6 linked regions of the Homo sapiens genome follow. The protein of the gene in region 3 purifies or fractionates together with the protein of the main gene of each other region. This does not show direct contact. Each region holds a gene or a part of one and is shown on either strand. Other genes may lie near its edges. The genes, in order: TRIM38, TANK, TICAM1, DIS3L2, TRIM56 and RNF144B.

Region 1 (5,419 bases), on a different chromosome or scaffold from region 3:
TCAGCTTCAAATCACTTTCAATAGAAATATGAGAAACTGTTTTGAAGAATAAGCTAAAAGCTTGACATGAATACTAAATCATTTTAAATTGGATTCATGATACCATTGTTCAAAAGATACCAGAATTCCCCTCTTCCATGAACTGTTTCTAATAACCAGCTGGCATCCTGATTTTTCCTGACTCATAAGACACAAAATTTCATGTGTGCCAAACACTGGTATTGGTTTTGCTTGGTTCAGCATGTTGTTTTACAAAATCTTTTAGATGATGATTACCTTGTTCTATATCCAACTTTTTCCTGGCAGGACTCTAGTGGTGGACATAGCTCAGGCTCTGGGTCAGCAGATGAGATTGCAATTGTTGCTCCACCACCTGGCAGTCATAGCCCTTTGGGCAAGTTATTTTACCCCTTTCTTAGTCTCATTTTCTACAGCACAGAAATGAAGTTTAAAATCCTACCAACTATTCAGGGTTGCCAAGGGGATCAGTATGTTCCTGCACATATAGCCTTTAGCATGCTCTCTAGCAAAAAACAATGAGGACTCTATAAATATTCACTATTATTCAAATATATCTTAGAAGATTGGGATTCCCCCTAGGTCCCTAATGAAGAGTCAAATTGAATAGGCTTCACTTATCAAATTTTTCCTTCAGGAAAAGCTCCAGAAAGCTGTGACAAAACTGAAGCAACTTGAAGACAGATGTACGGAGCAGAAGCTGTCCACAGCAATGCGAATAACTAAATGGAAAGTAAGAATCTGACTTCATTGATCTCAAGCTATTTTCCATTCTAGAGCTTAGGCATAGGGGATGATTGAGGAAAAGCACAATGAGGATTTATTCTCACTAAACCAGATTGAAAAAATGAAACCCAAGGAAGAAACCATTATTTGTACTTATGCCCCTGGTTCCAGGTTTACATCCATGAGTATTTAGCACCAATCTTTCCATCTTTAAACTGTAGTTGGCTGGGATTCCTGATACTTCAGTCAGAAGAAGCAGAATTAGTATGACTATTTACCTAGAAAAAGCATCGAGTGGGTCTCAAACTTTAAATACGTCAAAATAAACCTGGTTTGCAGGCCTCAACTCATTACCCTGGCACTTTTACCACAGTGGAGCATCTGGCTCTCAACTTTACAGGTACAGAAACCAAGCTTTGTGAACACTTAGAAAACAGGATCACTCCAGATTGAAATTCATACTACTCTAGCTCATGAAGCTGATGAAAGAAATATACTTTATTTATTTATTTATTTTTAAATTATTACTATTTTTTGAGATGGAGTCTTGCTGGAGTGTAGTGGTGCGATCTCAGCTCACTGCAATGTCCACCTCCCGGGTTCAAGCAATTCCCCTGCCTCAGCCTCTTGAGTAGCTGGGATTACAGGCATGTGCTACCATGCCTGGCTAATTTTTTGTATTTTAGTAGAGACGGGGTTTCACCATGTTGGCCAGGATGGTCTTGATCTCCTGACCTCGTGATTCACCCACCTCAGCCTCCCAAAGTGCTGGGATTACAGGCGTGAGCCACTGCACCCGGCCTATACTTGATTTATAAGTACATCACAAGTAATGCAACAACCTACACACTTGCAACTACAAACTTTCAGATTATTTCCGTGGCTGACTAACCTCCACATTATCAGAGCCACATTCTTTTATGGAAATATTTAGGTTTGTGCAAAAGTAATTGCGGTCTTTGCCATTAAAGTAAAGGCAAAAACCACAATTACTTTTGCACCAATCTTTATATTTATATAATTCACTAGCTTGCAGTAAAATCCCACAAGCTGATTACCAATTTTCTCTCTTTCAGGAGTCCTCTCTAACCTCTACCCTGATCTTTGTTTGTGGATGTTGCTCTTGAGCTCCTGAGTACACTCTTACTTCCCCCATTTCTAGGATCTTGGGCAATGGGGAAGACCTTGATTGTAACTAACATATATGAAAACCCGTCTATACAAGAGTTAAAGCTGCACCTGTCTCCTACACAAAAATTCCACCTCATCCTAAGTCAAAGACCCTTCTTCTATATCATAGTCATCAAAACACTGTATGAATTTATTTTTATTTTTTAATTTTTATTTTTTTAAGATAAGTAGAGAGTTTATTTGGGCCAAGTTTGAAGACTGCAATCCAAGAACATAGATTCAAATTGCCCTGAATACACACTCCCACTGCATTAATTTAGACAGCACTAATGGAAATTGCAACTTTACATCTCCTCAGATGAGAGTTTCACTTGATTTCTGTCAGTCTTACACATAGGAATGCTTAAGATGACCCTAGGGTAGTAGAACAGTATTTCTCAGTTAACCATAATAAATGCCTGTCACACTCAAAGCTCCCCCTGCCAAGAATTATGGACCCTCTTACCAGCCTGGTTGTCTTAAAATCCAGTCTGGGTGATGTTCATTATAAGCTTTTACTTCAAGAAAATCGCTCCAACTCAGAAATCTAACTTCTTAAATCATAAGTAAAAACCTCTTTTTATCCTTGTAACTGATAAAGTGTTTGAACTTGGCCCTAGTTTCACAATTAAATTATCTAGCACTCCTAACCCAGCTTTCTCCTGTGTCTTGGCTGAAGAACAAGAAAATTAATTGGGTGACTATAAGGAATCTGAGGCAACCTCTTCCACATCTGAGTGCCTGCCTCCCACACATGACTCTGCAGCAGGAAACTGGGGACATTCTTCCAGCTTCAGTGACTCATGAGAAAATAATGTCCCAGTGGCTGATTGTGTGTGTGTGTGTGTTTGTGTGAAAATATATATAACACTTAAGCATTTAACCACTTTTAAGTATATAGTTCAGTAGAATTAAGTGCTTTTACATTGTTACATTGTTGTGCAACCATCACCATTCCCATCTCCAAACTGCAACTCAGTTTCATCTTTCATCTTCTAAACTGAAACTCACTACCCATTAAACAATAACTGTCCATTTTCTGGTCTTGCCAACACCTTGTAACCACTATTTTACTTTCTGTCTCTATGAACTTAACTACTCCAGATGCCTTGTATAAGCAAAGTCTTACAATATTTGCCCTTTTGTTTCTGGCTTATTTTGCTTGAATGTCTTCAAGGCTTGTCATGTAGTAGCGTGTGTCAGACTTTCATTCTTGTTTATCCATTCATCCATAGATGGACATTTGGTTTACTTCCACCTTTTGACCATACTTTCTTGACTCCAGGAGAAGGTACAGATTCAGAGACAAAAAATCCGGTCTGACTTTAAGAATCTCCAGTGTTTCCTACATGAGGAAGAGAAGTCTTATCTCTGGAGGCTGGAGAAAGAAGAACAACAGACTCTGAGTAGACTGAGGGACTATGAGGCTGGTCTGGGGCTGAAGAGCAATGAACTCAAGAGCCACATCCTGGAACTGGAGGAAAAATGTCAGGGCTCAGCCCAGAAATTGCTGCAGGTGAGGCTGTGTACTTGGAGTAGGGAAAAAAGGTATGTTATAGTGCTATTAAAGGAGAATGGTAAGGAAGCATGGGAAGATAAAGTAATGTTTCTTTTAGATGTACATCAGTGCCATCAGGCTGGCCTTCACTAATTTATAGGGTACCTTTATGTCAATTAGAAAAATAAACTTCTGAGGGAACACAGCTTGGCCAAATGAAACCACGGGATAACATTTACCACTGTTTGCCTCCTTGGCCCATGTGCAGAGAACCCTGGTTGTTGACTCTCTCCTGAAATACTCCACTAGGTGACTGATGGGTGATGAAGTGGGGCAGCCAAAATGAGTGATAACCTTTTCCCTGATTTGCTTGTAGAACCCTTGCTCCAGAGCTGTTATGGTACAATCTACAGCTTTATCTGTAGGAAGATAAACATCTGGAGCCATTAATTCTGGTTCTAACTAACAGGATTGGTGACTATACTGTAAGGCTGAGTGTATAGCATGATTGCTTTACCACTGTGTGATACCTGCTACCACCATCTTAGTGGCAGTGGCCCAGTCTCAGGGCTGTGCACAGATTCACCACTAAGGACCTTTATGATAAGTGTTCTCTAATCTGGGCTCACTGTGAAGGAAATCCGATCACCAAAAGCTAGTCCTTACAGAGGGAGCATGGACAAAGCTCCTGGCCCTCAGACTTCAGCAAGGATGAGAATAGATGCAAATGTTGATAAACATCCTGCCATGCTGAATCTCCCAGAAGCTGGTAGGAATTATTCCATCTGGGTATCCATCAATACCTAAGACTGGTGGGAATTACTTTGTTTGAGTATCCATCAATATCTAAGACTAAGACTAGGGTAACTCTCTTTACTTCTTCGGGTAAAGCAAAGAAGAATAGCCCTGCATGACAAGCCCCATGAAATACCGATGTTCCCATGCTCACCTTTTCTTTTTGTTTCTTTATAGAATGTGAATGACACTTTGAGCAGGTAAGTCCTGTTTGAATGCAGGAGGGGAGGGGTGTGCGTATATAGAAATGAATGGAATGCACCTCTGAAGAAATCTCTCGCCTCTGCTTATTCTAGGAGTTGGGCTGTGAAGCTGGAAACATCAGAGGCTGTCTCCTTGGAACTTCATACTATGTGCAATGTTTCCAAGCTTTACTTCGATGTGAAGAAAATGTTAAGGAGTCATCAAGGTATGTTCACTAAAGAATTCCTGAATACTGTGGATAGAAGGGGCCTTATGCAGTAACCAAGTTTACCACCTGTCCCTTGGCAGGCTCACAGCCAGAGAGGTTGTTTAGTTAATTTCAGTAGAGCTTTCATACTTTCTCTAGTTAGTATGATTCACTGCTCAGTGAATGTGATGAGCATTGCATTCTGGTTATCTGTGCAAACCTTTCAAATTCTTATTCTTTCACTTATTAGCCATGTTACTCCAAGTGACTTGGTTTCCCCCTCTGAAAAATGAAAATATTAACAGCTCCTACTTCATTGAGTTATCATCAAAATTAAATGCATCAACATGTACAAAGTGCTTAGCCCTGTGACTGACACATGATCATAATAGCACATCATGGTATTAGATCTGATCATAGTGTTTATTATCAATAGCTCAGCCAACTCTTAGAGCAATGCAAGAAAAGTAGGTGAGTATGATAACCTATCATTCACATATTTTAGGAACTTGACTTAGATAACACAGATGACAAATGTTACAACCAATTTACAGATTCCAAAATGTTAGAACCATTTACTGAGTTTCCTGCTCCCTTGATTTTTTAAATCAGTGCTGACTATACTTTCACAAATTTGTATCCGTAAGTACAAAATCAAAAAAACCCCTGAAAATGGAAAGTTTTATCATGATTCATTTGGCTACAAAAATCTGGCCTAACCTGAAATGATTTGGTGGTTATATTAGTTATCTATTAGTACAAACAAATTACCATAATTTAGAACCTTAATACAACACTGATATGTTATCTCAATTTTTGTG
Region 2 (5,419 bases), on a different chromosome or scaffold from region 3:
TTAGAAACTCAGATTTGCTGTTTCACTTCCTTTTGCCTCTGGAAAAAAATAAAAAGACACTATAAAATAAAGATTGCAAATGATATTTTTAACTATACCACATCTTGTGTAAAATGTACTAATTTCTCTGCTAAGGCAATTTAGATCAGATACTCTAAATTAAAAAGCCTAGTCAACTGAAGATAAAATCAGAGTTGAAGTATACAATACATGTCCAGTCTAGACAGGCTTGGTGATGGGTGAGAGTAAACAAGTCATTTAACCTTTCTATGGACCTCTGTTCCCCCATTTCTCCCAATTCAGAATCTTGGCGTAGAGTCAGGCTGTAGGACATTGGTTCGCAACCTGTCAGTAAATTAGAATCATCCACGGTGGTTTTAAAAAATACATTACCAAACCCTGTCCAAGACTCCTGGATCTAATTTTGTACAGTGGGGAGATGTAAGATGGATTTAAAATTACTGCCATAGGGGGTCGAGTCATAGCTTGGAAAGCACTATAAAATGCTATACAAATATGCACCAACGCAGGGAAACAGGCTTTCATAAAGTTGCCTTTTTTCCCATAGTGATCTGCTTTTTAATTATTCTACAAGAAGTATATAGAATTTCGGAACAAAAATAGCAGTTGCTAAGGTAGAAGACTTTCTCAAATAAATAAATAAAGGTATTTTGATACTTTGGCAGATGGCCCAGAGCAACAGCACTTTGTTCATCTTGCTTCCATAAAACTTCCACAACTCATCAACTTAATTAATAGAGAAAACAAATGTTTTCTCTATTAATGGCATTTGTTGAAGTTCTTGTTGAGAAATTTGACTGACCATAGCCCATCTCCCACTAAGTAGCAATGACACTTTTAACTTGATGTTCCTCCTATCAATACTCTAATCATCTTAATTCTATTTCAATTCTCAAACTATCTACAGATAGTTGAGAGACAAGATAGATCTCAAAGACATGCCTTTAATTCAAAGAGGCACAAAGAGTCATGGATAAGAAGGACAATCTCAGTCTTCTGTTTGGATGGCAATCATCCCAACAATGAAGAAGGTGGTTCCCTATTTGATCATGGGAAGCACTGGGGTTAGGGTCGGAACAAAGATCTATTTGCAGGTGCTTTACATAAACTACCTCATTTTTAATCTTCCCTCTGCAGAAGCATATATTGTCTTCCCTTTACAGAGGAGGAAACTGAACTTCAAAACTGAGCTTCAAAAGGGTAAATAAGTTGCATAAGGCACAGAATTAGAAAATGGAAGAACCAGATAAACCTAGGTCTCTGTTGCTAAAGCACAATCTCTAGCTCTCTCCCCTCTAATTTTTTATTTTAATCAGAGCTATACGTACCTATATCTTAATGAGTTGTGTAGTTCTACAAAATAAGAAAAACAGTAGTCCTCTGCTTTCCCCTTCCTATTTCCTGCTTCACCTTCGCAACAAATTTTGACTAATTCTTTTTTGTATTTATCTCTGTATCCCTAAATAACATGTAATACTGCCACTACTGATTTTTCAGTTTTTGTCTCTTCATTATGGAAAATTAGGATTCAGCTCTCTTTAAATATCCCCTACCTCCTATTCTCCCCCATTTCCCCAATACAGTTATATCTAATTTTTCATTAGATTAGCATTCAGCTTTTACTTTCTTATTACTATGTAATGCTATTCACTGTTGAACAATACCATGGATACTTTTCCTTTTCTGAAAACTTTTTTCCCTGAAAATTCTTGTTTGCTTTGTTTCCTATTATCACTAATACAACTCCTCAATATATTCAGACACGTCAGGTATTCTATCTCTTTAGAAGAATCACTCTGTAAGCTTTCTGGCTTGCTCCAATCTAGACTAGTTGCTCTCTATGCCTGATGGAAAGCCTTCATCTTGGGACCTTCTTTACCTTGAATTTGGGGATACCCTTTGTCCATCTCTTTCTTTAATTGAATCCCTCATTTTCAGTCTCCTGAATCTTGTTTTATATCCCCACGTGGTGACGCAAATCTTGTAGCAGCTTCCTAAGAAAGTGTTTGGGAAGTAAATTTTTTGAGGCTTTGCATAACTAAAAATATCTTTACCCTCTGACTTAACGGATCCTTTGGCTAGATTAAGAGTTCTAGGTTGGAAGTAATTTTTCCTCAGAATTCTGAAAGCTTTGCTATGCTATCTTCTAGCTTCTGTTTATTTTTTTTGAGGATCAGATCCATTTTGATTCCTGATCTTGTACAATTCTCACTCTGTTGCTCGAGGCTGGAGTGCAATGGTGTGATCTCAGCTCATTGCAACCTCCACCTCCGGGATTCAAGCGATTCTTGTGCCTCAGCCTCCCCAGTAGCTGGGATTACAGGCGCACGCCACCACACCCAGCTAATTTTTGTATTTTTAGTAGAGACGGGGTTTCACCATGTTAGCCAGGATGGTCTTGAACTCCCAGCCTCAGGTGATCTGCCTGCCTCGGCCTCCCAAAGTGCTTGGATTATAGGCATAAGCCACTGTGCCTGGCCTTAAACCGATTTTTTTCTCTTTGAAAACAATTAGGATTTTTTTTCTTTTTGTCCCTAGGATTCTGAAATTTCAGGACCATACTTGGCCATGGACTATATCATAGCAATAGGTGTTTGGTGGGCCCTTTCAATCTGGAAATTCCTCCTTCAGTTCTTGGAAATTTTCTTGAAAATTTTTTGGGGCAATTTCTTTCCTTTTGTATTCCTTTCTGGGACTTCTACTATCTGGGTTTTGAATCTTCTGTACTGGTTCTCCAATTCTCCTTATTCTGCCACTCCTTTTAAAATGAACTTCCCTCCTTATTTCATAGTGAGAAATAAAAACTTTTAATGTGAGGAGTGCAAACCCATTTTAATTATCAGGCCCAGAGAGGCACTGAAATGTAAGTGTGTGACAGCAGTCACACCTCACTCTCCCGTGAACTAAATGACCCTCTTGAAGCTACCTACTATGTGATGCCAAGTAGCCATAAAATGCCATACGTTAGATACCAAAACTCATGCCCTATAGTTCAACAATGTATAATCACTAATCAATGTTATTTCTGTAAACCAGTGAGAATTCCTATCAAATAACTTAGTATCAGCCCATTCTTTGCTCTCTTTTGCCTTTAAAAACCTGGTTGCGGCCAGGCACGGTGGCTCACACTTGTAATCCCAGCACTCTGGGAGGCCGAGGCGAGCGTATCACAAGGTCAGGAGATCGAGACCATCCTGGCTAACACGGTGAAACCCTGTCTCTACTAAAAAATACAAAAAAATTAGCCGGTCGTGGTGGCGGGCATTTGTAGTCCCAGCTACTTGGGAGGCTGAGGCAGAAGAATGGAGTGAACCCAGGAAGCGGAGCTTGCAGTGAGACAAGATCGCGCCACTGCACTCCAGCCTGGGTGACAGAGAGAGACTCCATCTCAAAAAACAAAAACAAACAAACAAACAAACAAAAACCTGGTTGCAACAAAGGCCGAATGGAGCAACCCCCCAAGGCAACCTGGAAGTGTGTCCAAGGCAGCTGTCGTCAACCTTTACCCAAATAAATTCCCCATATTAATTTTGCCTCCATTTCTTTAGGTTGACAATAGATACAATATCTTAAGTCTGTTGTCTTTGGCAGCCATTATCCTGCCAAATGACAGCCAACCAATCCTGGATAAAGAAAGTAGTAATCAAGGGTAAGTAGTGGTGCCTCTGGAGCTGCACTGAGGCTGACAGTGTATGAGCCAAATCATGTTCCACCTCTAACTGCCTGTTCAACCAGAACATCTGAGCTTTGATCAGTTATGTATATATACATTGGAATTCCACGTTTGAAGAGAATCAAAGGCTTAAAGGTAGGATTTTCGCCATCTTGACCCCAGGATGATTAGTCATTCTTTAGTAAGGTCTACTTTTTTGTAGGTGGTTGAGACAAGTGTGAGTAATTTGGGAGGCAGGCAAGGCCCCTCTGCTGGGTTTCCCCAACTGCTGAGCCTATTCTGTTTCTGGGTAAATGTTCTGCCAGAGTTCACACTTGTGGTGAGAGACCAACTCAAATCTAAAGCAGTTTCAGGATGGGGAAAGGAAACCACCTTGAATAACTGCTACTCCTTCCACTTTGCCCTAGAAAAGAAAGCCACCAGCCTTTCCCAACCCCTTGGGCTATGAATAAGAGGAGTTCATATTCTATTTCAGAAAAGTTGCCACTGTAGTACATAAAGAGGTGAATCAGTGAATGAAAGACAAATTCTGTGTTTTTGTTTTGTTTTTTGTTTTTTTTTTGAGACAGAGCTTCACTCTGTCCCCCAAGGGTAGAGTGCAGCAAGTGTGGCGGTGCAATCATAGCCCACTGCAGCCTGGACTCCTCGCCTCAAGCAATCCTTCCACCTCAGCCTTCTGAGTAGTTGAGATTATAGGCGTCAAGCCACTGTGCCCCACTACATCTTGGTCTTTTCTGTATCTTAGTTACATGCTTGCCTTCTCACCCACAAAACACATCAGGAGTAAAAAGCAAAAAAATCAGTCAACAACACGACATATACACATAAATAAGACATCTTCTCTTTTGGATGGTTAGGAAGATCTTTAAAGACACTCAAAAATATTAAGTGTGTTTTCCTTACCTGAAGAAAGGAAATGGAAGAGAACTGTCACTACTCACATTTACTTGTGATCATTTTCCACTTTTAAGGAGTTATATAACACAAGCAGCTAATTCCCCAACTGACCTCTTGCATTTCTATTCTCCTTCCACATTGTAAACTTTGGTCATGAATATACCCATAGCATATTGTACTACGCTGTTTCTGTGCTCCATCCAGGCAGCTGATATAATAGAAACCTTAAATATCATAAATCCAGCAGTGTTAGAATTTGAATTTTGTATTTTTCCATAAGCTGGAAGGCTAAATGCAACAGGATAAACAAGACAGTCTCACTGGTTAAACCCAAAGGTCCCCAGTACATGTTCTCCATTTTGCTGGATGTTAGAACTTGGTGAAATTTTCTATGTGATCTTGCAAGAGCTAAAAGATTTCACTGTCAAAGACCACACCCATGAGTCTCAGTTTTGCCTTACTTCCTTTTTTTCTCCAGTAATACTTCTTTCTCTGAGACTATTTATCAAATGTTATGGGTTTAAGTGCACAACTAAACAGTATAACACCAAAAGGGAAAGCAGGCATGTGATGTTCTACTCCTCTGAGGTGAACGTAAACATGGCACTGCTCAGTTGGCTGTGCTGAACTGAGTAATCTTTAAGGGGTATCCTCTCCTCTGACTAGGGGCAATGTTAGAATCTGAAGATGGGGGAGGAAGGATATACAATTTTGAAATAGTTAATATTAAAAATCTATTACATAAATCATATAAAGAAGGACTTTGCATAATATTCACAGATGAGGGAACTAGAAGAGAAAGTCTGTAGTCAGTATGGTGAGGTGTAG
Region 3 (5,060 bases):
TTTTTAAAAAGAGTTGGATGTCTTATTCAGTTGATAAATAAATAAATACATACATAAATAAGAAAGATGCGGCTGGGTGTGGTGGCTTACGCCTGTAATCCCAGCACTTTAGGAGCCCAAGGCAGGTGGATCACCTGAGGTCAGGAGTTTCAGACCAGCGTGGCCAACATGGCGAAACCCCATCTCTACTAAAAATACAAAAATTAGCCGGGTGTGGTGGCGAGCTCCTGTAATCCCAGCTACTCGGGAGGCTGAGGCAGGAGAATAGCTTGAACCCGAGAGGTGGAGGTTACAGTGAGCTGAGCTCTCTTCACTGCACTCCATCCTGGGTGAGAGAGCCAGACTCCATCTCAGGAAAAAAAAAAAATAGAGATGGGGTTTCATTATGTTGCCCAAGCTGGTCTTGAATTCCTGGCCTCAAGCAACCCTCCCACTTCAACCTCCCAAAGTTCTGGGATTAATTACAGATGTGAGCCACCACAGCACCCAGTCTTGTTTATGTATTTAGACACTCCAGAATCAATACATGTTAAGTGTCCAACAAACCTTGGCTCCATTCTTATTCTTAGAAGGTCTGTCACCCTGAAAAATATTAATCCCTTCCATGTGGGTCCCCATACTTAATGAGTGCTGCACCTGCTACCCAGGTATGGTGTACCTGATATGTGGTTCTGCATATGATCCGCTGAGGCCTTGAAACAACAGCCTCCACAGACCCATTTCTCAGATGAAAAAGCAGAGGCTCCGACAGGGGAGGCACTTGCCAAATGTCACACAGTGGCATCGGAGTCCAACCTTGGTGGGGGCATCAAAGGCAGACCCCAAAGAAAAAGGAAGGGCTGCAGCAAAAACTGCTAAATGTCCCCCAATGGCATTCATTCAAATTCATGCATTTATTCACTCATCCATTCATTCACTCACTCATTCATTCATTCACTCATCCTTTCACTCACTCATCCATTCACTCATTCATTCACTCACTCGTTCATTCATTCACTCATTCATTCACTCACTCGTTCATTCATTCACTCATTCATTCACTCGTTCATTCTTTCACTCATTCATTCACTGACTCGTTCATTTATTCACTCACTCATTCACTCATTCATTCATTCACTCACTCGCTCACTCATTCATTCATTCATTCATTCATTCATTCATAGCTCACTGCAGCCTTCGGCTCCTGGGCTCAAGCAATCCTCCCACCTCAGCCTCCTGAGTACCTGAGACTACAGGCGTGCACCACCACGCCCAGCTAACTTTTGTATTTTTGAAGAGACGCGGTCTCACCATGCTGCCCAGGCTGCACCCTCCCCGCCCTCAACAATATCTTTTCCCTCCACCTTTCCTGGTATTAGAACCCCGACTCGGGAGGCACACGGCCGTTCAGAAAGGACTACATTTCCCAGGGTTCCTTGCGGCAGGAGCAGGGCCATGTGATTATATTCTGGCCAATGGGATGAGGGCAAAGGCCGGTCTATGCCCTCCAAGAAGAGGCGTGCACTTCCCGCTTCCTGTTCCCTTTTGCGGGAGCGGGAGCCACGTGTTTTATAACAAATAGCCAGGCAGAAGGTGTCCCAGAAGACAATGGCGCTGCGGAAGCATTCAATAAATATTTATTATAATTAAAAGACCGTAGCAATACCCCCACCACCAAGACCCTTCACCCAGAAATAGAGAGATTGGAATTGTAAACACCGTATCCAGTTCTGACCACCCTGAAAGCCAGGGCATCATCGCGCCCGTTTTGTCCTAAATGAAGGGCTCCCGGACAATGTCCTGAAAGTGGCAGATGACCTCATCTTCCACTGTCCACAGGGCACAGGGCAGACCGGGGTGCTCTATGGGGTCCTGGCCGATGCCTGGGTCCAGGGGTGTTCCCCAGGTGGTCAGGCAAGGACACGCGGTCATTCTGCCTCCTGCGTCTTGTCCTCGGGCGCCTGGGACCCTCTCTGGTTCCACATGTGGTTGTTCAGCCCCAGCTGTACCATCTGTGCGTGGTGGATAATGAGGGGTTGCAGCCCTGGGCTCTGAGGGGGTGCGGGTGAGGCCGTAGGGAAGGCTGGGGACTGCGGGAAGGGCAGTGACTGTGGAAAGGCTGCTGGCTGTGGGGAGGGCGGTGGGGGGGTGCCAGCCTGCCATGCGTGCAGGGGTGGCGGCTGCGGGCACCCCGGCCAAGTGGGAAAGGGTGGCGGGGCTCCCAGGGGCACCTGGCCCCCAAAGGGCATTCGAGCCCCATAGGGCGCCCCAGTCCCAAATGACATGTGGCTCCCAAAAGCCACCTGGAGCTGCTCCATCTGTGCCTGGTAGGACAAGTAGCTCTGGAGGTAGGCTGAGTAGGCTGCGTTCAGTGCCGCCGCCTGCATCCGCTCACCGTCCAGGTGTTGGCTCTGTTCCCGCAGGGCTCGGGTGTCCTGTTCCTTCCTCCACATGGCCTTTCGGGCCTGAAGCCTGTGGGGCTTGAAGGTGTTGGCCACCTTCCTGGCGAAGATCTGGGAGTGTTCGTCCAGCCGCACCAGCCCGGAGAGCAGGCTGGCCGTGTCGGAGCTGAGCTGGGCCGGGGAGCTCTCCAGGGGCAGGAAGGGGATGACACAGTCTGGCGACCCCTGTCGCGTGAGGTTGCTCATCATGGCTTGGTTCACCTGGTGCAGGCTCAGGCGACAGTCGAAGTTGGAGGTGAGAAGTAGGATGATGAAAGCTGAGTGGTCTATGGCGTCCTGCAGGCAGCTCAGCTCCCCGCGCCCCGGCACCTGGAAATCCTCGCAGAAGGTGGCCCCGTCGGGCACGCCAAGGGCCTCCAGCTTCTCCCGAACCCGCAGGGCGATGTGTTCGTCTGCCCTGGCGTGGAGGATCACAAAGTTATAGAATTTCTGTTCCGATGATGATTCCAGGGAGGAAGGGAACAGGGAGGAGGGGGTCAGGTGAGCTGAACAAGGAGTAGATGAAGGAGGAGGAGGAGGAGGAGGAGGGGATGTTTCTGGGGTGGTGGGAGTAGGTGGGCACGGCTTGGTATTTGGAGAGGTGGTATCTTCTACAGAAAGTTGGAGTGGCGTCTGGTCTTTGACAGAGCAGGGGTTTTTGACCGGCTCCAGAATAGGCAAGGGGAGAGACTGGGGGCCTGCAGACCCCTCGGTGCACTCCACTGGGTAGTTGGTGCTGGTTTCTGGAGCTGCGGGGGTATCAGGGAGGCCAGTGGAGGTTGCATCTGGGGCCACTTCGGGAAGCCCAGGAGGTGGGCTGCTTGGCAGCTCTGGTGGGCTGGCAATCTCCCCCGATGGCGGCCAGCTCATCTCCTCAGGCTCCTGGCAGCCACCGGGGACAGGCTCGGGCACCAAGCTGGCCTGGGGGTCGTCACAGAGCTTGCTGGGCCCATGTGGGCTGCGGTGCAGGCTGAGGAAGGGCATGGTAGGGGACTGGCTGATTTCCAAGTTGCTGGCCAGGGAGGCAGGGCTGCCAGTGGATCGCAGGGAGCACCCTTGGCTCCAGTCCGAAACACCGTCAATGGGGCGTGGGAGGCTCCTGGTCCCAGAGGGCAAAGCCGAGGATGGTGGGAGGCAGCCCAGATTGGACTGGAGCGTCCGGATGCTCCCTGGATCCCCAGCAATGTCCCACCCACACCGGTTTCGGGCCTCATCCTGAAGTTCCCCCAGCCGGTGGTCGTCCCTGGAGCTGAGGGTGCGGACGGCTTCCTGGTAGGCCACGTCCCGCAGCGAGGCGGGGCACAGCTTCTCCTCAGCCAGCAGGTGGTACAAGCGGGCCACAGCCCAGGACACATCTGGGGGCTCCTCTGGGTCCTCGGTGCTGTCCACGCCAGCCCACTGGCGGGCCACCAGCCGGGCCACCGCATCGGCCTTCAATGCCTCTAGAGAGATCCTGGCCTCAGTTTCCTGGCCCAGCTTCAGGAGAACCATGGCATGCAGGAGGTCCTGCCCCTGGCAGCCTGGGCGTGGGGTCTTCAGTTTGTGCTTCAGATACAAGAGCTTGTCCTGGCCTGCTGCACCTAGAATGTCGAAGGCGCTAGGAAGTGATGGGCCTGTGCAGGCCATGGGCACAGGTGGGTGCAGCCTCCGGCAGCAGAAGCTGGAGGTGGTGAAGGCATGTTCCACACTGCCCCCCGCCTTCTGCACGCCCAGTGTCCCCTACCCATTCACTGTTCCAGGTTCTGCAGGAGCTGCCCAAGCAGATCTGTAGGAAACAGGAGAAGCAAACACACTTACCCCCAAGAAAGGTCAGCACGGGAAGGCGGCCCACACACCCCCGCCTGCTTTCCCCGCCTGCCACCCAGACCTAGCCAGGTGACCTTCGGCAACACGTCGCCTCCTTCAACTTCCATTTCTTCCTCTGCAAAATGCTATGAGGCCAGTGTGGTGGCTCAGGCCTGTGATCTCAGCACTTTGGGAGGCTGAAGCAGGAGGATCACTTAAGCCCAGGACTTCGAGACCAGCCTGGGCAACACAGCCAGACTCCGTCTCCACTAAAAGTTTAAAAATTAGCTGGGCTGGGTGAGGGGGCTTAAGCCTGTAATCCCAGCAGTTGTGGAGGCCGAGGCGGGGGGATCACCTGAGGTCAGGAGTTCGAGACCAGCCTGGCCAACATGGTGAAACCCCGTTTCTACTAAAAATACAAAGAATTAGCCAGGAGTGGTGGTGCATTCTTGTAATCCCAGCTACTTGGGAAACTGAGGCAGGAGAATCGCTTGAACACAGGAGGTGGTGGCTGCAGTGAGCCAAGATCATGCCACTGCACTCCAGCCTGGGCAGCAGAGTGAAACTCCGGCTCAAAAAACAAAAAAAGTAGCTGGGCGTGGTGGCACGTGCCTGTTGTTCCAGCTACTCCGGAGGCTGAGATGGGAAGATCGCTTAAGCCCAGGAGGTTGAGGCTGCAGTGAGCTATGATGGTACCACTGCACTCCAGCCTGGGCAACAGAGTGAGACCCAGTCTCAAAAAAAAAAAAAAAATGCTGTCATCTGAGACTTACCTGGTGTTACCTGAGAGGTAAACACTATTACACTATTTTCCCCATTTACAGATGAAGAAAGCAAGACACACAGAGGTGATGT
Region 4 (5,419 bases), on a different chromosome or scaffold from region 3:
AGCCCCGCCTCCTGTCAGATCAGCAGGGGCATTAGATTCTCGTAGGAGCATGAACTCTACTATGAACTGTGCATGCAAGAGATCTAGGTTGCATGCTCCTTATGAGAATCTAATGCTTGATGGTCTGAGATGGAGCAGTTTCATCCCGTAACAGCCCCCTACTTCTGGTCTGTGGAAAAATTGTCTTCCACAAAACCAGTCCCTGGCACTGAAAAGGTTGGAGACTGCTGCCTTGTAGCATTTTTTGGTTTAGTAACTCAAAAGTGAATTTAGTCCCTACAACACTAATTCTTCAGTATAAACCATGAAGATTATCACAAAATCAGACGTAGGTTAGTTTTTGAATATGCTCTACAGTTAAGCTTGCTGTACTCTGGTTGTTGCTTTCCACTGATCTTCTGTATTAGTCCATTTTCATAATGTTGATAAAGACATAACCAGGACTAGGCAATTTACAAAAGAAAGAGGTTAATGGATTCACATTTCCACGTGGCTGGGGAGGCCTTCCAGTCGTGGCAGAAGGTGAAAGGCACATTTCACATGGCGGCCTACAAAGGAAGAGGACTTGTTCAGGGAAACTCCCCTTTATAAAACCATCAGATCATGTGAGACTTATTCACTATCATGAGAACAGCACAGGAAAGACCCACCCCCCCATGATTCAATTACCTCCCACCTGGTCCCTCCCATGACACATTGGAATTGTGGGAGCTACAAGTCAAGATGAGATTTGGGTGGGGGCACAGCCAAACCATGTCGCCTTCTCTTCCCATTCTCTTCTTAAACTTCGTATGCATGAGCCAAAGCATAAATTATTAAGTAAGTAGGCAGGCAGAATCACGCTGATTACAATTTATACCCCCCCCCCCCCCCCCCACATATACATACATGCAGAGAAAGACCTTTCACTGTGAGAAAGTTCAACCTGCAGATTGTATAACAAAGTCAGAATTCTGGTACCTATGATATTTCTCCGTGGTTGGTGGGAACCAAATCCTTTGTGGAACCACTAGTGGCAGAAATAAATACAAAATAGAACCTAAAGGCCTGAGCTCTTTGCATAATGTCTTCTTCTTCTTTTTTTTTTTTTTTTGAGACAGAGTCTCACTCTGTTGCCCAGGCTGGAGTGCAGTGGCATGATCTCAGCTCACTGCAACCTCTGCCCCCTGGGCTCAAGTGATTCTCTTGCCTCAGCCTCCTGAGTAGCTGGGATTACACACGTGTGCCACCACACCCAGCTAATTTTTGTATTTTTAGTAGAGACAGGGTTTCACCATGTTGGCCAGGCTGGTCTTGAACTCCTGACTGCAAGTGATCTGCCTGCATTGTCCTTCCAAAGTGCTGGGATTACAGGTGTGAGCCACCACGCCAGGCCCATAATGTCTTTCCAGGAGACTACCTTTTACCTGCTAGACCAACTGCAGCATGACAGTTGCTTTCTTGCCCAGAACTTCTCTCTCTGAGATAAAGTATGTATGGGGATGATACAGGAAAAACCATTAAACCCGAGATTGTATATAGCCACCATGCTTTAGACATAGGGTATACACCTGTGCCTTCTGCCTGTGCTTAGGCTGCTCTGACAGTACCCAAGGTTGTATTAGTTCTTTGAGGATGGTCAGGGGCAGATGTTCCTAAATATTTCTGAATTTGCCAGGCATATTTAAGGAAATTGAATGAATTTGTTGATTTGAGTGATATCGGATTCTTTTTCTGCTGTAACTTGTCAGTAAATTTTCTTATTTTTGGATGATCTTCTTTGGGTCAGTTATGAAAACAAGGCTTATGTGGTAAAGCAGAAGTGCAGATGGGGGAGCTGGTTTTTTAATTGTACAGGCTGTGTATTCCTTATCCAGAATAAGGAATTCTTATCCAAAATAAGGTCCTTTTTGGGACCAGAAGTGTTTTTTTTGGGTTTGGGATGTTTTTCGGATTTTGGAATATTTACATTATACCAGTTGAGCATCCTAAATCCTAAAATCTGAAATCTGAAATGCTTCACTGAGCATATCTTTTGATTGTCATGTTGATGCTCAAAAAGTTTCAGATTTCAGACCATTTTGGATTTTCAGATTAGGGATGTTCAACCTGTGTATCAGTGCCCTAGCTGTAGCTTCACTCACATGAGCTCTTGCAGGAAGGGCCCTGCGGGAATCTTTTTGGAGATTGCTGGCCTGGCCAGTAGAACTTTTTTGTAGTATTAAAGAGAGGGAGATATGTCTGTTTCTAACTTCCCATTGACAGATGAATGGACAAATGAATGTATGAATCTGACATGAGTCAAAACAAGCAAAAAAGAAAATTTTATTAAATATACTCAGGGACTGGGAACCAAGTTTTTAAAAAAGTTTGCTCAAAAGTTTTGAGCACAGTTTTGCTCAAAAAAAAAAAAGCATTGTTTACAAGTTTTTCTATTACTATATTTTTATGGAGTCAATTTTTACAAACTGAGGATATATTCTTACCTTTATTCTGATCGTTCTTTGTAATATTTTACTTTGGTTTTCTGAGTTGATATTATAATATTAATTGTCTAGGAATGGTTATGTTAATTGAACCTACTGTATTAAAATGCTTTAGGAAAGATTTAATAACTTTTTCTCTCTTGTATAAGGTGAAGATCTTTCACTAAGCATGATCTTTGTGTTACTTTTAATTAGAACATTAGACCTATCAAATATAAACATGGTGAAACTGCTAGAGCTCTCTTACTTCATTCAGGTCTCTGCTCAAATGCTGCTTCCTCTAAGCAGTATTTCCTAATCACCCTACTGATAAACTAGGCACACCCTCTCCATTATTCTCTCATTTACTTAACGAGCTTTCTCATTCTTTCAATATATTTAATTGCGCTTCTCACTAGTCGACTTTTGATTGTGTTCACTGTTCTGCCCTTGGCACCTAGAACAGTTTCTGGCACCATGAAAGGGACTCCATAATGACTTGTTGAATGAGTAAATTGTTCATCATTTGTCACCCCACTAGGATGTAGGACTCATGACGGTGCCTGGCACGAGGTGGGCATTCCAACATTTGTTTGAAAGAATAAAAGGAATGTTTACAAGTAGTGATCAAATTCATTTTTTATATTTATGTATATACAGGTGATCATTTAAGTTTTAATTATATGTTTAAATTGAACATAGGTATTTATCATATAGAAATAGATTATTAAAAAGGATGCAGTATTCAAGTAACATCCAAGAACCTACAAAATCTGCTGCTTTTTTGCTAATGTGGATGGGCAGATTTACATGTAGGGTCACAATTTTTTTCAGTGACTCAATAACACCTGGTGTATTTTAATATAGTGTCCATAGACATCAGAGTGCTGTATGTGACAAACTCATAAAATGGATTAGTATCTGGATTGGTTTTTTATTTTATTTTATTTTATTTTTTTTAGAGCTAGAATATCCCTTTGTCGCCCAGGCTGGAGTGCTGTGGCGTGATCATAGCTTACTGTAACTCCTAACTCCTAGGCTCAAGTAATCTTCCCACTTCAGCCTCCCAAGTAGCTAGGACTACAGGCGCCCTGCCCCCCAACTATGCCTGGTTGATTTTTAAATTTTTTTTAGAGGCAAGGTCTCAATATGTTGCCCAGGCCGGTCTTAAACTCCTCCTGCCTTGGCCTCCCATAGCTCTGAGATTACAGGTGTGAGTCACTGTGCCTGGCCTGGATTTTTTTCCTCTACTTGCTTCATTAGTATTGTAGTGTAAATGTCCATCAGTGTGTGTGTGCTTTATACGTATATACGTATATATACACACGTATAGACGTGTATACGTATATATACACACGTATAGACGTGTATACGTATATATACACACGTATAGACGTGTATACGTGTATATACATATACGTATATATGTATACATATATACATATGTATATGTATATGCATATGCATATGTATATATACATATATGTATATATATGTGTATATGTATATGTATATGTATATGTATATGTATATGTGTATATATACATATACATGCAGAGAAAGACCTTTCACTGTGAGAAAGTTCAGCCTGCAGATTGTATAACAAAGTCAGAATTCTGGTACCTGTGATATTTTCTCCATGGTTGATGGGAACCAAATCCTTTGTGGAACCATTAGTGGCAGAAATAAATACATAATAGAAACTAAAGGCCTGAGCCTTTAAATATATATATATATATGTGTGTGTGTGTATATATATATATATACACATATATATATATGTATATATATATATATGTGTGTGTGTGTGTGTGTATATATATATTTTTTGAGACAGAGTCTCGCTCTGTCACCCAGACTGGATGGAGTGCAGTGGTGCCATCTCGGCTCGCTGCAAGCTCCGCCTCCTGGGTTCACACCATTCTCCTGCCTCAGCCTCCCAAGTAGCTGGGACTACAGGCACCCGCCACAACTCCTGGCTAATTTTTTTATATTTTTAGTAGAGACAGAGTTTCACCGTGTTAGCCAGGATGGTCTCAATCTCCTGACCTCATGATCCGCCCGCCTCAGCCTCCCAAAAGTGCTGGGATTACAGGCTTGAGCCACCGCGCCTGGCCAATAAAGCTTTATATTTTTATAAGAACATTTTATAAACTCTTGTTCACACTTAATTTTGTTTTTTTTCCACTTCATCTTGTATTCTTGTGGTTTCCTTGGTTTCCTTTAGGAACACTGTGGCATACTTTGTTGAGTTCTTTTATCATTCCCTAACTTACTAATTGTTCCTATATGGTGAGGGTTTATGAAGCAGCATGGTACTACTTCTGGTATTCAGGGCCTTTGGGGAGAGGGGATGAAAATGTAGATCAGAAATATGAGAAGTGGATAAGGCATTAATTTGGGGCATCCTGAAGAGCTGAGTGTCAGCCTGGCTTTGCTGGATTGATTATGTGCATTAGGTGGTCTGTGCTTCTGGAAAATAAAGATCCTTTTTTGAACTACATGATTAGTGTCCAATACCGTTAGCTTCTGAATATGCAGTTTCTTCCTTAGAAAAGAAAAATCTGCTCTTTTTTTTTTTTCCTCTCTCAGTGATTTAGCAGAATTTTTCTGTTTTCTTTAGGTAGTTAAACCAGAGAGCAATGACAAAGAAACAGAAGCTGCGTATGAATCAGATATCCCCGAGGAGCTCTGTGGACACCATCTCCCGCAACAGTCCCTGAAAAGCTATAATGACAGTCCTGATGTCATTGTAGAGGCTCAGTTTGATGGCAGCGACTCAGAAGATGGACATGGCATCACACAAAATGTGCTGGTTGATGGTGTTAAGAAACTCTCAGTTTGTGTTTCTGAGAAAGGTGAGTACTAGACTATTGTCTTACTTTTTTTTTAAGTACACTGATTAAGTATTGGAATTCCCTCTCTGCTGCAGAGTAAATAACACAATGCCATTGATATAGTCCTAATTTTTGACC
Region 5 (5,419 bases), on a different chromosome or scaffold from region 3:
TTAGCTAAGGCCAGGGACTCCTGGTCTTGTCAGTTCTCACAGGTCTGACCCAACAAGTAGCACTGACATTTTTACGTTTGCTGGATGTACACACGGAAGTGGAGGAGGAGGAGGAGAAGGAGGAGGGCAGCTCCTTAGCTCAAGAGCAAGTGGCCCAAGGCCTCAGAAGACTAGAAGGAAGTTCCTGGCCATTCAGGTGAGACCTCAGGTTCCTTCCCGGCCATTTGGGTCAGCCCCTAGCCCTGGGGATCCGTGGGGCTTGAGGACGGGCGGTAGAAGCTAGAGGGTGAGCTGGTGAAGGTGCCTTCTCAACTCTGATCCTGACGCCTCTGCCTGCAGCATGGTTTCCCACGGGTCCTCGCCCTCCCTCCTGGAGGCCCTGAGCAGCGACTTCCTGGCCTGTAAAATCTGCCTGGAGCAGCTGCGGGCACCCAAGACACTGCCCTGCCTGCATACCTACTGCCAAGACTGCCTGGCACAGCTGGCGGATGGCGGCCGCGTCCGCTGCCCCGAGTGCCGCGAGACAGTGCCTGTGCCGCCCGAGGGTGTGGCCTCCTTCAAGACCAACTTCTTCGTCAATGGGCTGCTGGACCTGGTGAAGGCCCGGGCCTGTGGAGACCTGCGTGCCGGGAAGCCAGCCTGTGCCCTGTGTCCCCTGGTGGGTGGCACCAGCACCGGGGGGCCGGCCACGGCCCGGTGCCTGGACTGTGCCGATGACTTGTGCCAGGCCTGTGCCGACGGGCACCGCTGCACCCGCCAGACCCACACCCACCGCGTGGTGGACCTGGTGGGCTACAGGGCCGGGTGGTATGATGAGGAGGCCCGGGAGCGCCAAGCGGCCCAGTGTCCCCAGCACCCCGGGGAGGCACTGCGCTTCCTGTGCCAGCCCTGCTCACAGTTGCTGTGCAGAGAGTGCCGCCTAGACCCCCACCTGGACCACCCCTGCCTGCCTCTGGCTGAAGCTGTGCGTGCCCGGAGGCCGGGCCTGGAGGGACTGCTGGCCGGTGTGGACAATAACCTGGTGGAGCTGGAGGCAGCGCGGAGGGTGGAGAAGGAGGCGCTAGCCCGGCTGCGGGAGCAGGCGGCCCGGGTGGGGACTCAGGTGGAGGAGGCGGCTGAGGGCGTCCTCCGGGCCCTGCTGGCCCAGAAGCAGGAGGTGCTGGGGCAGCTACGAGCCCACGTGGAGGCTGCCGAAGAAGCTGCTCGGGAGAGGCTGGCGGAGCTTGAGGGCCGGGAGCAGGTGGCCAGGGCCGCAGCCGCCTTCGCCCGCCGGGTACTCAGCCTGGGGCGAGAGGCCGAGATCCTCTCCCTGGAAGGGGCGATCGCACAGCGGCTCAGGCAGCTGCAGGGCTGCCCCTGGGCACCAGGCCCGGCCCCCTGCCTGCTCCCACAGCTGGAGCTCCATCCTGGGCTCCTGGACAAGAACTGCCACCTTCTTCGGCTGTCCTTTGAGGAGCAGCAGCCCCAGAAGGATGGTGGGAAAGACGGAGCTGGTACCCAGGGAGGTGAGGAGAGCCAGAGCCGGAGGGAGGATGAGCCGAAGACTGAGAGACAGGGTGGAGTCCAGCCCCAGGCTGGAGATGGAGCCCAGACCCCAAAAGAGGAAAAAGCCCAGACAACCCGAGAAGAGGGAGCCCAGACCTTGGAGGAGGACAGGGCCCAGACACCCCACGAGGATGGAGGACCCCAGCCCCACAGGGGTGGCAGACCCAACAAGAAGAAAAAGTTCAAAGGCAGGCTCAAGTCAATTTCCCGGGAGCCCAGCCCAGCCCTGGGGCCGAATCTGGACGGCTCTGGCCTCCTCCCCAGACCCATCTTTTACTGCAGTTTCCCCACGCGGATGCCTGGAGACAAGCGGTCCCCCCGGATCACCGGGCTCTGTCCCTTCGGTCCCCGGGAGATCCTGGTGGCGGATGAGCAGAACCGGGCACTGAAACGCTTCTCCCTCAACGGCGACTACAAGGGCACCGTGCCGGTCCCTGAGGGCTGCTCCCCTTGCAGCGTGGCCGCCCTGCAGAGCGCGGTGGCCTTCTCCGCTAGCGCACGGCTCTATCTCATCAACCCCAACGGCGAAGTGCAGTGGCGCAGGGCCCTGAGCCTCTCCCAGGCCAGCCACGCGGTGGCGGCACTGCCTAGCGGGGACCGCGTGGCTGTCAGCGTGGCGGGCCACGTGGAGGTGTACAATATGGAAGGCAGCCTGGCCACCCGGTTCATTCCTGGAGGCAAGGCCAGCCGGGGCCTGCGGGCGCTGGTGTTTCTGACCACCAGCCCCCAGGGGCATTTCGTGGGGTCGGACTGGCAGCAGAATAGTGTGGTAATCTGTGATGGGCTGGGCCAGGTGGTTGGGGAGTACAAGGGGCCAGGCCTGCATGGCTGCCAGCCGGGCTCCGTGTCTGTGGATAAGAAGGGCTACATCTTTCTGACCCTTCGAGAAGTCAACAAGGTGGTGATCCTGGACCCGAAGGGGTCCCTCCTTGGAGACTTCCTGACAGCCTACCACGGCCTGGAAAAGCCCCGGGTTACCACCATGGTGGATGGCAGGTACCTGGTCGTGTCCCTCAGTAACGGGACCATCCACATCTTTCGGGTCCGTTCTCCGGACAGTTAAAGGGGCTAGGACTAGGGTGAGAGGGAGTGGGGAGGGAGAGGGCAGGAAGGAGGCAGAGCTGTCCGTGGGAGGTGGAGGCCGAGGACATTTTCCTGAAGGGCAGGGGTTGGCAACTTTTCAACATGGAGTGCCAAACTGCTAACCCGTCTTCTAGTGTGTGAGAATAGGGACCAAGGTGGTGGCGTGACCTTAACTCTCAGAAGCAGAGGAGGCAGGTGGGTGGAGGGGGATGCTGGGAGTTCACCTGCCTCTTGCTTTTTGTGGGTGGCTGCTGCCACCACCGCCGCTGCTATATAGTTTAGGTTTCTGAGGTTTGTGAGCCTGTCCTGCTTTGCATTCTTCAAAACCATTCCTGATAGAGTAGCCGAGGGAGAGTCTTGGGGCCAAGAAGGGCCCAGGGTGGGTCAGGCGTGTGCACTGTGGAACAGAGCTGAGACCCCGGCCCCCCTTGGACTGGCACAGGGTCCTACAGAGTCAGAGGAGGCCTGAGATTTCGAATGGGCAGTGAATGGCCTCTTCTGCCAGCCACAGGCAGGATGCTCCTTGATCACGGCATCCCCCGGCGGTAGTACAGGGTGAGCTTGCAGGAGGGTCTGCAAGTGCAGACAGCAGCTGGGGCCAAAGAGGTGTTAGGTTCAAAGGCTGCGAAGAGAATAGGCTACTGGAAAACCAAACCCAACAGAATTCACGTCCAAAAATCCACATTCTCCATCGCTTCTCAGCCTTTTGGCTAAGATTAAGTATTAAAAAAAAACCAGGCTCTGCCAGGCGCAGTGGCTCATGCCTATAATCCCGGCACTTTGGGAGTCTGTGGCAGGAGGATTGCTTGAGGCCAGGAGTTTGAGACCAGCCTGGGCAACATAGCGAGACCCCATCTCTACAAAAGATTAAAAATTAGCTGCGTGTAGTAGCATATGCCTTTCAACGTAGCTACTCAGGAGGCTGAGGTGGGAGGATCCCTTGAGCCGAGGAGTTTGAGTCTGCAGTGAGCTATGATCGCACCACTGCATTCCAGACCCCATCTCGAAAAAAAAAAAAAAAAAAAAAAACAGAAACAACAGAAAAAGCAGGTTATCCATCACTTCTCAGCTAAGATCAAGTGTTAAAATAAATAAATAAATAAATAAATAAATAAATAAATAAATACCAAGTTATGAGTGTCAGAGCAGGGGAGCCCTCCACGCAGCCACGGAGCCAGTCTGAGGGAAGAGGTACATAGGATAGAAAAATCTCTAGGCTCCAACGCTTCTGCTTCGGTGTCTTTCCATTTCCCAGGGTCTATGTGTTGCCTTCTCTTCATTTTCCAGCAAAATTCCTTTTGAGATATGTTGGCCTTCACTCGGCTGAACTAGGGGGTGAAGGAAGGTTGTCCTCTGTGGGCCACTATTGCTGGGGAAACAGCTAAACCCTGCAGGCCAAGTGGAACTTGGAGGTGCCAAGAAAACCTAGAAGGTGCAATGGGGCTGCGACGGATAGAGGTGTCAAACCAGAAGGGAGGAACCCGTCGGAGGTGGGCTGTGACCACCGGACCTTTTCATAAGTGGTGGCAGTGGTAGAATTGAGGGGGCAAGTAGGCTTGGAGAATGTTTTTAGCCAGGGGCTGTTGAGAGATGGCAGAAGGGGGTCTTAATGTGGGGACTGTGGACAGTGGGGCATTCGTGGGAACCAGAGGGATTTTGGACAAGTCCAGATGGAATGTGCAGGGCATAGGTAGAGGGAAAAGAAAATCCCTTTCTGGGAAAACCATTTCTTGTTTATTGAAACAATGCAGGACATCATCAAAGTCCGGGTGGACACATTCCATTATCTACAAATTACAAAGGTAGGCACAGCAAAGAATAATGAAGATTATAAGAAAACCAAGCGCCAGGCACGGTGACTCAAGCCTGTAATCCCAGCACTCTGGGAGGCTGGGGTGGGTGGATCACTCAAGGTCAGGAGTTCGAGACCAGCCTGGCCAACATGGAGAAACCCCATCTCTACTAAAAATACAAAAATTAGCTAGGCGTGGGAGCGGGCGTCTGTAATCCCAGCTACTTGGGAGGCTGAGGCAGGAGAATCATTTGAACCCAGGAGGTGGAAGTTGCAGTGAGCTCAGATCGCACCATTGCACTCCAGCCTGGGTAACAAGAATGAAACTCCATCTCAAAAAAAAAGAAAAAGAAAAGAAAGAAAACCAAGGTCCCTCTCCCTCTCCCTCTCCCCACGGTCTCCCTCTGCCTCTCTTTCCATGGTCACGGTCTCCCTCTGATGCCGAGCCGAAGCTGGACTGTACTGCTGCCATCTCGGCTCACTGCAACCTCCCTGCCTGATTCTCCTGCCTCAGCCTGCCGAGTGCCTGCGATTGCAGGCGCGCGCCGCCACGCCTGACTGGTTTTCGTATTTTTTTGGTGGAGACGGGGTTTCACTGTGTTGGCCGGGCTGGTCTCCAGCTCCTAACCGCGAGTGATCCGCCAGCCTCGGCCTCCGGAGGTGCCGGGATTGCAGACGGAGTCTCGTTCACTCGGTGCTCAATGTTGCCCAGGCTGGAGTGCAGTGTCGTGATCTCGGCTAGCTACAACCTCCACCTCCCAGCCGCCCGCCTTGGCCTCCCAAAGTGCCGAGATTACAGCCTCTGCCCGGCCGCCACCCCCTCTGGGAAGTGCGGAGTGTCTCTGCCTGGCCGCCCATTGTCTGGGATGTGAGGAGCCCCTCTGCCCGGCTGCCCAGTCTGGGAAGTGAGGAGCGCCTCTTCCTGGCCGCCATCCCATCTAGGAAGTGAGGAGTGTCTCTGCCCGGCTGCCCATCATCTGAGATGTGGGGAGCACCTCA
Region 6 (5,419 bases), on a different chromosome or scaffold from region 3:
CACCATGCCCGGCTAATTTTTTGTATTTTTAGTAGAGATGGTGTTTCACCCTGTTAGCCAGGATGGTCTTGATCTCCTAACCTTGTGATCCGCCTACCTCAGCCTCCCAAAGTGCTGGGATTACAGGCGTGAGCCACAGTGCCCGGCCCACATGTGGGTCTTTCACACATTGTCCCTAAGTTGCACATTGGTAGGGAGCAGAATATCCAAACTGACAGGTAATCCAACTTCTTGGCTAAGCCACACCAGATACTGTTTAATCCCTAAACTATTTGATTATTTTCTTCCTTGTTCTTTAATTTCCTGGGAATGTGGAAGAAACCTCACTATCTGTTTCTCAGTGCCTGAAAGGACAAAGTCTTTTTGGAAAAATATCTTATTAAAAATTTGCTTTTTATGTCCAATTCTCTTCCAAGATAGTGCCCAAATAATTGTAGAAGGGATTTGAGATTTTTGCCTATTTTACGTGCTCAAAGGTGGGAAATATTCTAAAAGTCTTGTGAATTTTGTTTACAGAGAACACTTTTTATCTGTTCATAAAGGCAATGGTAAGCTATTCTGTTAGTACCTACTTTGAGAAATGTGGCAGGGCTTAGCGACCTTGTAAATGATAGGTTTGGATCCATTATGAAGACTAATAGTAGAAATCCTCACCCTTGTTGTATTATACTTCCATAAATGTCAGTTTAAAAAAGAGGGTAAATGGGGCAGGTGTGGTGGCTCATGCCTGTAAAATCCCAGCACTTTGGGAGGCCAAGGTAGGCAGATCACCTGGGGTCAGGAATTCGAGATCAGCCTGGCCAACAAGGTGAAACCTGTCTCTACTAAAAATACAAAAATGAGCCAGGCGTGATGGTGCGCACCTGTAGTCCCAGCTACTCGGGAGGCTGAGGCAGAAGAATCGGTTGAACCCAGGAGGGGAGGTTGCAGTGAGCTGAAATCATGCCACTGTACTCCAGCCTGGGCGACAGAGTGAGACTCTGGTTCCAAATAAATTAAATAAATAAGAGGGCAAATGAAGGTGAGAAAGACTCAAACATGAATCGGGCAGACCATCACATTTTCTTTCTTTACACTTTAGAAGTTCATCTGGACCCCTACCGAACATGGTGTCCTGTTGCAGACTGTCAGACAGTGTGCCCTGTTGCCTCGAGTGACCCAGGACAGCCTGTGCTGGTGGAATGCCCTTCTTGCCACCTGAAATTCTGCTCGTGTTGCAAGGATGCTTGGCATGCAGAGGTCTCCTGTAGAGACAGTCAGCCTATTGTCCTGCCAACAGAGCACCGGTAAGAAAGGAAACTTTGTCTTTGGGATTATTCACTAGTTTTCTTAGAAATTCAACATACCTTACGTGTAGAAGGAGTTACGTTGTGATGGCGTTTAGAGATTGGTTATTTTCCTGCAGAACTTCCCTGAGAAGTGTCTCAGAATTGGTAAGTTGCCAACAAAAAAGCATTTCTAGTTGTTTGCCCCAGAGGAATCTTCCAGATATTGCTGGAATTAAAGTTTGTATGAGTTTTGCTTTCTCTTTAGGTAGTGAGGCACCGTGGTCTACTGGTTCTCAGTAGGAAATCATGACTTGTTCCCGCTCTTTGCTCAGATACAGTATCTGCCTGTATTGGTATATATCATTCTTGTTGCTTGCAAAATGAGAAAAGAAATTTTCTTACCTGACTAAATTGCCAGCTCATGATGTGTGACAGTCATATTAGAAAGAACACAACAATAGAAACAACGGTCCTAAATTCTTTCAGCACGTAGAAAGGAGGGTTCTCTCATGATATTTTATGCTCTGTAAAGGTTGAGATTTTATCGTGATAGGAAGCAATTAAATCTGTACCTTTTTAGTACAGCGGGTTTTTTTTTGTTTTGTTTTGTTTTTGAGACAGAGTCTTGCTCTGTTGCCTAGACTGGAGTTCAGTGGCACGATCTCGGCTCACTGCAACCACTGCCTCCTGGGTTCAAGCGATTCTCCTGCCTCAGCCTCCCGATTAGCTGGGATTGCAGGCACTTGCCACCACGCCTGGCTAATTTTTCTATTTTTAGTAGAGATGGGGTTTCACCATATTGGCCAGGCTGGTCTTGAAATCCTGACCTCAAGTGATCCACCCGCCTAGGCCTCCCAAAGTGCTAGGATTACAGACATAAGCCACCACACTTGGGCGATACAGAGGGTTTTTATGGCAACAGCAGTGCCCAGAGTGAGAGACCTCTGTGTTTCATTCCTGCTTTGCTTGAGGCTATCGTTGTTCTGCATCAGCAAGAACAAAATACGAGTGTTGTAATCCCATTGGCTTAATCACACAGTGCACCCAGAATGTGTAGAACCAGGCTTCATGAATAGTAATGCTACTTGGCTACGATGCTGTGCTTGAATCTCAGAACAAACAAATGGAGAGGAATAGAGAAGCTAATACACATGGCAGGCATGTGCCCTCTTAGCCGGATTCAAACCACTGTTGCCTACATTTTCGTGGCCATAGCAGGAAGCTCCGTGGGTATCACAGGGCAACGTAAAGAACTCAGAGGATAGGAGGATTTGCATTCTGACATTGTCACTCGGTATCTGTGTGTCTCATAGAAGCCACTCAGCCTCTGTGAGTCTGTTTCCCTATCTGAAAATAAGGGAATTAAGATACAAGTTGAGCATCCCTTATCCAAAATACTTGGGATAAGAAGTGTTTCAGATCTCAGTGTTTTCAGATTTTGAAATATTTTCATGATATGTTTATTGGTTAAGCATCCTTACTCTGAATACCAGGAGTCAGAAAGGCTTCAATGAGCATTTCCTTTGTCATGTTGGCACTCAAAAAGTTTCAGATTTTGGAGCATTTTGGATTTCAAATTGTGGACTAGGGATGCTCAACCTGTAATAACTGTCTTATGACAATATGAGGTTATTGTTCATACGAAGTCTGATAATAGATTTGACAACACTCTGTGAGTTGGATATCTCTGTGTGCTGGGTGGTGGTTTTGATGGGCAGTAGCTAAAGTGTTACATGGTGCTATCGCTCACTCCAATTCCTGTTGCTTATTTTCTGTGCCCCTTGGGGCTGTGAGCCTGTATTGGTCTATTCGTCTGTTTGGAGAAGGTCTTTTGAAAGTATTTGACATTATTTTAAAGTGTTTATATTTGAGAACCCCTTCTCCATTTGTCTAATGAACAGACCATTAGATAGATTATATACGCCCAGTTTGGACCCTGACCTAGTTTCTCTGCTGTGTAGCCAACTCCTTGCCATTCTTATTTAGGCAATGCATGCTTAGGGAATGAAATATTAATTTGACAAAATAGTGAGTTAAATCAGTGGTGGAAACTGTAATTATATAATTCACTGAAAGCCAAAATAAATAAAGATTCCTTCTTGTATGAGTTATCTGTACATCTAATAATGTTTTTGCCCACACCCTTTCTTTTGGAAGTGAATTAAGCATGGATAACTGTGAGTTCATTATCTAACCATCAGGAGCCCTGGGAATTCAACTGATGACCATCAGCTGAATGCCATTTCTCATCCATTTTGTTTCTAGAGCCCTCTTTGGGACAGATGCAGAAGCCCCCATTAAGCAGTGCCCAGTTTGCCGGGTTTATATCGAACGCAATGAAGGCTGCGCTCAGATGATGTGCAAAAACTGCAAGCATACATTTTGCTGGTACTGCCTCCAGAACTTGGATGTAAGTTCCACCTAGGTTTGTTGTATGGTGTTTCCTATACTGTATCTGCACCACAGCTGATATCCTACAGATTTTCCTTTAAAATATTGGGGCAATTTTTGTCCTGCAAAAGGAATTTATTTTTCTTAATGAGACTTACTAAGCCTGATACTTTAGATATCTAAAAACATCTTTTTGATGACCTTACATATGCCACCCTGGTGTTAAAGGCAAGCTTTTGTTTTCAGGGCATTTCTTGCTATTTGCACATTGTCTCTATTATGTAAAGGACTATTAGTGTCTTCATTTTATATTGCTGTTGTAACGAATTAGCACATACTTAGTGGCTTAAAATACCACAAACTTATTATCCCACAGTTCTTCACTTTGGAAGTCTGACATAGGTCTTGCTGGATTAAAATCAAGGTGTCAGCCGGGCTGCATTTCTTTCTGGAGGCTTTAGGGGAGAATCTGTTTTCTTGCCTTGGAGGCTGTCCGCTTTCCTTGGCTTGTGGCCTCTTCCTCCATCTTCAAAGCCAGCAACATCAGATCTCTCACTCCCTTCTTTCTTAGTCGTTGCTCCCTCTGACCACAGCTGGGAAAGGTTCTCTGCCTGAAGGACCAATGTGATGAGATTGGGCCCATCAGGATAATGTAGGATAATCTCCTTTATCTCAAGGTTCTTAATTTAATCACACTTGCAGAATCCCTCTTGTCATATAGGGTAACACATTCACAGATTCTGGGAATTAGGCCATGATATCTTTGGGAGGTAGTTATTCTGCCTACCACTATTAGATTTTTTCTTCGTTTTGAATTTAAAGAAAAATGGTTCAAATCAATGGTGTCTCCTAACTCTCTTCTCTCCCTCATGCTCTCTTGCATGCTCTCACTCGCTCTCTCTCTCTCTTGTTCATGAGCATGCAGCAGTATCGCTACTGTTTTGACAGTGTTCCCTTCCCAGATCAAGGGGCTTGGCTTAATTTTTTCTCACCATTCATGAATCAAGTCTCAAATTGAGGTGCAGTTTTATTCAGCCCTGTGCCAAGGCTAATGGTAACTTCAGAGTTAAAAATGCGATGCAAAGAGTTGGTGAGAAGGTCTTACTTCACTTCTGGTCTTTTAAAGTTTGGGGTAACATAAGTTGTTTATAGATAACACTCTGTTTTGGCAATTTGGACCTCTAAAATATGTCCATATCAGCGTAAGCCCTCAGTTACCATTGAGTTGCTATTCTTTTCTCAGCTCTTTGTTTTGATTGCTTGATTTGCTTTAATTCAACAAGCGATTTGTGTAGTGCTTTAGTTCAGACATGCTTAGTGAGTGAGTGTGCAGTTAGCATGTAATGTCATCAAGCAGGCCACCACCTGCTTGATGTTTAATGGAAAACTAGATATGTTGTTTAAGATGACATGTATGAATAAGAATAATAACCTCCATCTTAGTGATTTAAGAAGAGGTATAAACTGAGGAGAAGAAAATGGACATTTTAGACTCTAGAAGTTCAGCAGCTCAGTTTGGAAGAAATATCTTCTATTTAAAAATTGATTTATCATAGGCCCTTGAGTTACAATTATGTTTGATATTTAAGACCTAGCATGCATCTAAGTGAGTGATATTCTGGATGAGGATTTTACTGATTGTACATTACACATGCATTACAAATGAAAAACAATTTTTTTTTGTTTTCCTTCAGGTTTCACCAGAATATTAATTGGGTTCATATCCACAAGGAGGCTGAGCCCATGAGGTTCTCTTTAGG

What was found.
Region 1: the proteins of TICAM1 (region 3) and TRIM38 purify together in Homo sapiens (affinity purification with western blotting, with the first as the bait; one study listed by BioGRID). This does not show direct contact.
Region 2: the proteins of TICAM1 (region 3) and TANK purify together in Homo sapiens (affinity purification with mass spectrometry; one large-scale study listed by BioGRID and IntAct). This does not show direct contact.
Region 4: the proteins of TICAM1 (region 3) and DIS3L2 purify together in Homo sapiens (affinity purification with mass spectrometry; one large-scale study listed by BioGRID and IntAct). This does not show direct contact.
Region 5: the proteins of TICAM1 (region 3) and TRIM56 purify together in Homo sapiens (affinity purification with western blotting; one study listed by BioGRID and IntAct). This does not show direct contact.
Region 6: the proteins of TICAM1 (region 3) and RNF144B purify together in Homo sapiens (affinity purification with western blotting, with the first as the bait; one study listed by BioGRID). This does not show direct contact.

What each region holds. Positions count from the first base shown.
Region 1 is NC_000006.12:25,968,670-25,974,088, forward strand, and holds part of TRIM38 (E3 ubiquitin-protein ligase TRIM38), read left to right. Parts: intron 1-655; coding exon 656-751; intron 752-3,199; coding exon 3,200-3,430; intron 3,431-4,384; coding exon 4,385-4,407; intron 4,408-4,503; coding exon 4,504-4,616; intron 4,617-5,419. UniProt on the Homo sapiens protein: E3 ubiquitin-protein and E3 SUMO-protein ligase that acts as a regulator of innate immunity. Acts as a negative regulator of type I interferon IFN-beta production by catalyzing 'Lys-48'-linked polyubiquitination of AZI2/NAP1, leading to its degradation.
Region 2 is NC_000002.12:161,165,633-161,171,051, reverse strand, and holds part of TANK (TRAF family member-associated NF-kappa-B activator), read right to left. Parts: intron 1-5,419.
Region 3 is NC_000019.10:4,814,332-4,819,391, forward strand, and holds the end of TICAM1 (TIR domain-containing adapter molecule 1), read right to left. Parts: intron 4,186-5,060; 5' UTR 4,148-4,185; coding exon of another isoform or gene 4,144-4,147; 5' UTR 4,047-4,143; coding exon 1,908-4,046; 3' UTR 1,601-1,907; downstream 1-1,600.
Region 4 is NC_000002.12:232,082,420-232,087,838, forward strand, and holds part of DIS3L2 (DIS3-like exonuclease 2), read left to right. Parts: intron 1-5,067; coding exon 5,068-5,302; intron 5,303-5,419.
Region 5 is NC_000007.14:101,086,973-101,092,391, forward strand, and holds part of TRIM56 (E3 ubiquitin-protein ligase TRIM56), read left to right. Parts: intron 1-33; 5' UTR 34-196; intron 197-339; 5' UTR 340-340; coding exon 341-2,608; 3' UTR 2,609-5,419.
Region 6 is NC_000006.12:18,456,074-18,461,492, forward strand, and holds part of RNF144B (E3 ubiquitin-protein ligase RNF144B), read left to right. Parts: intron 1-1,081; coding exon 1,082-1,286; intron 1,287-3,533; coding exon 3,534-3,678; intron 3,679-5,419.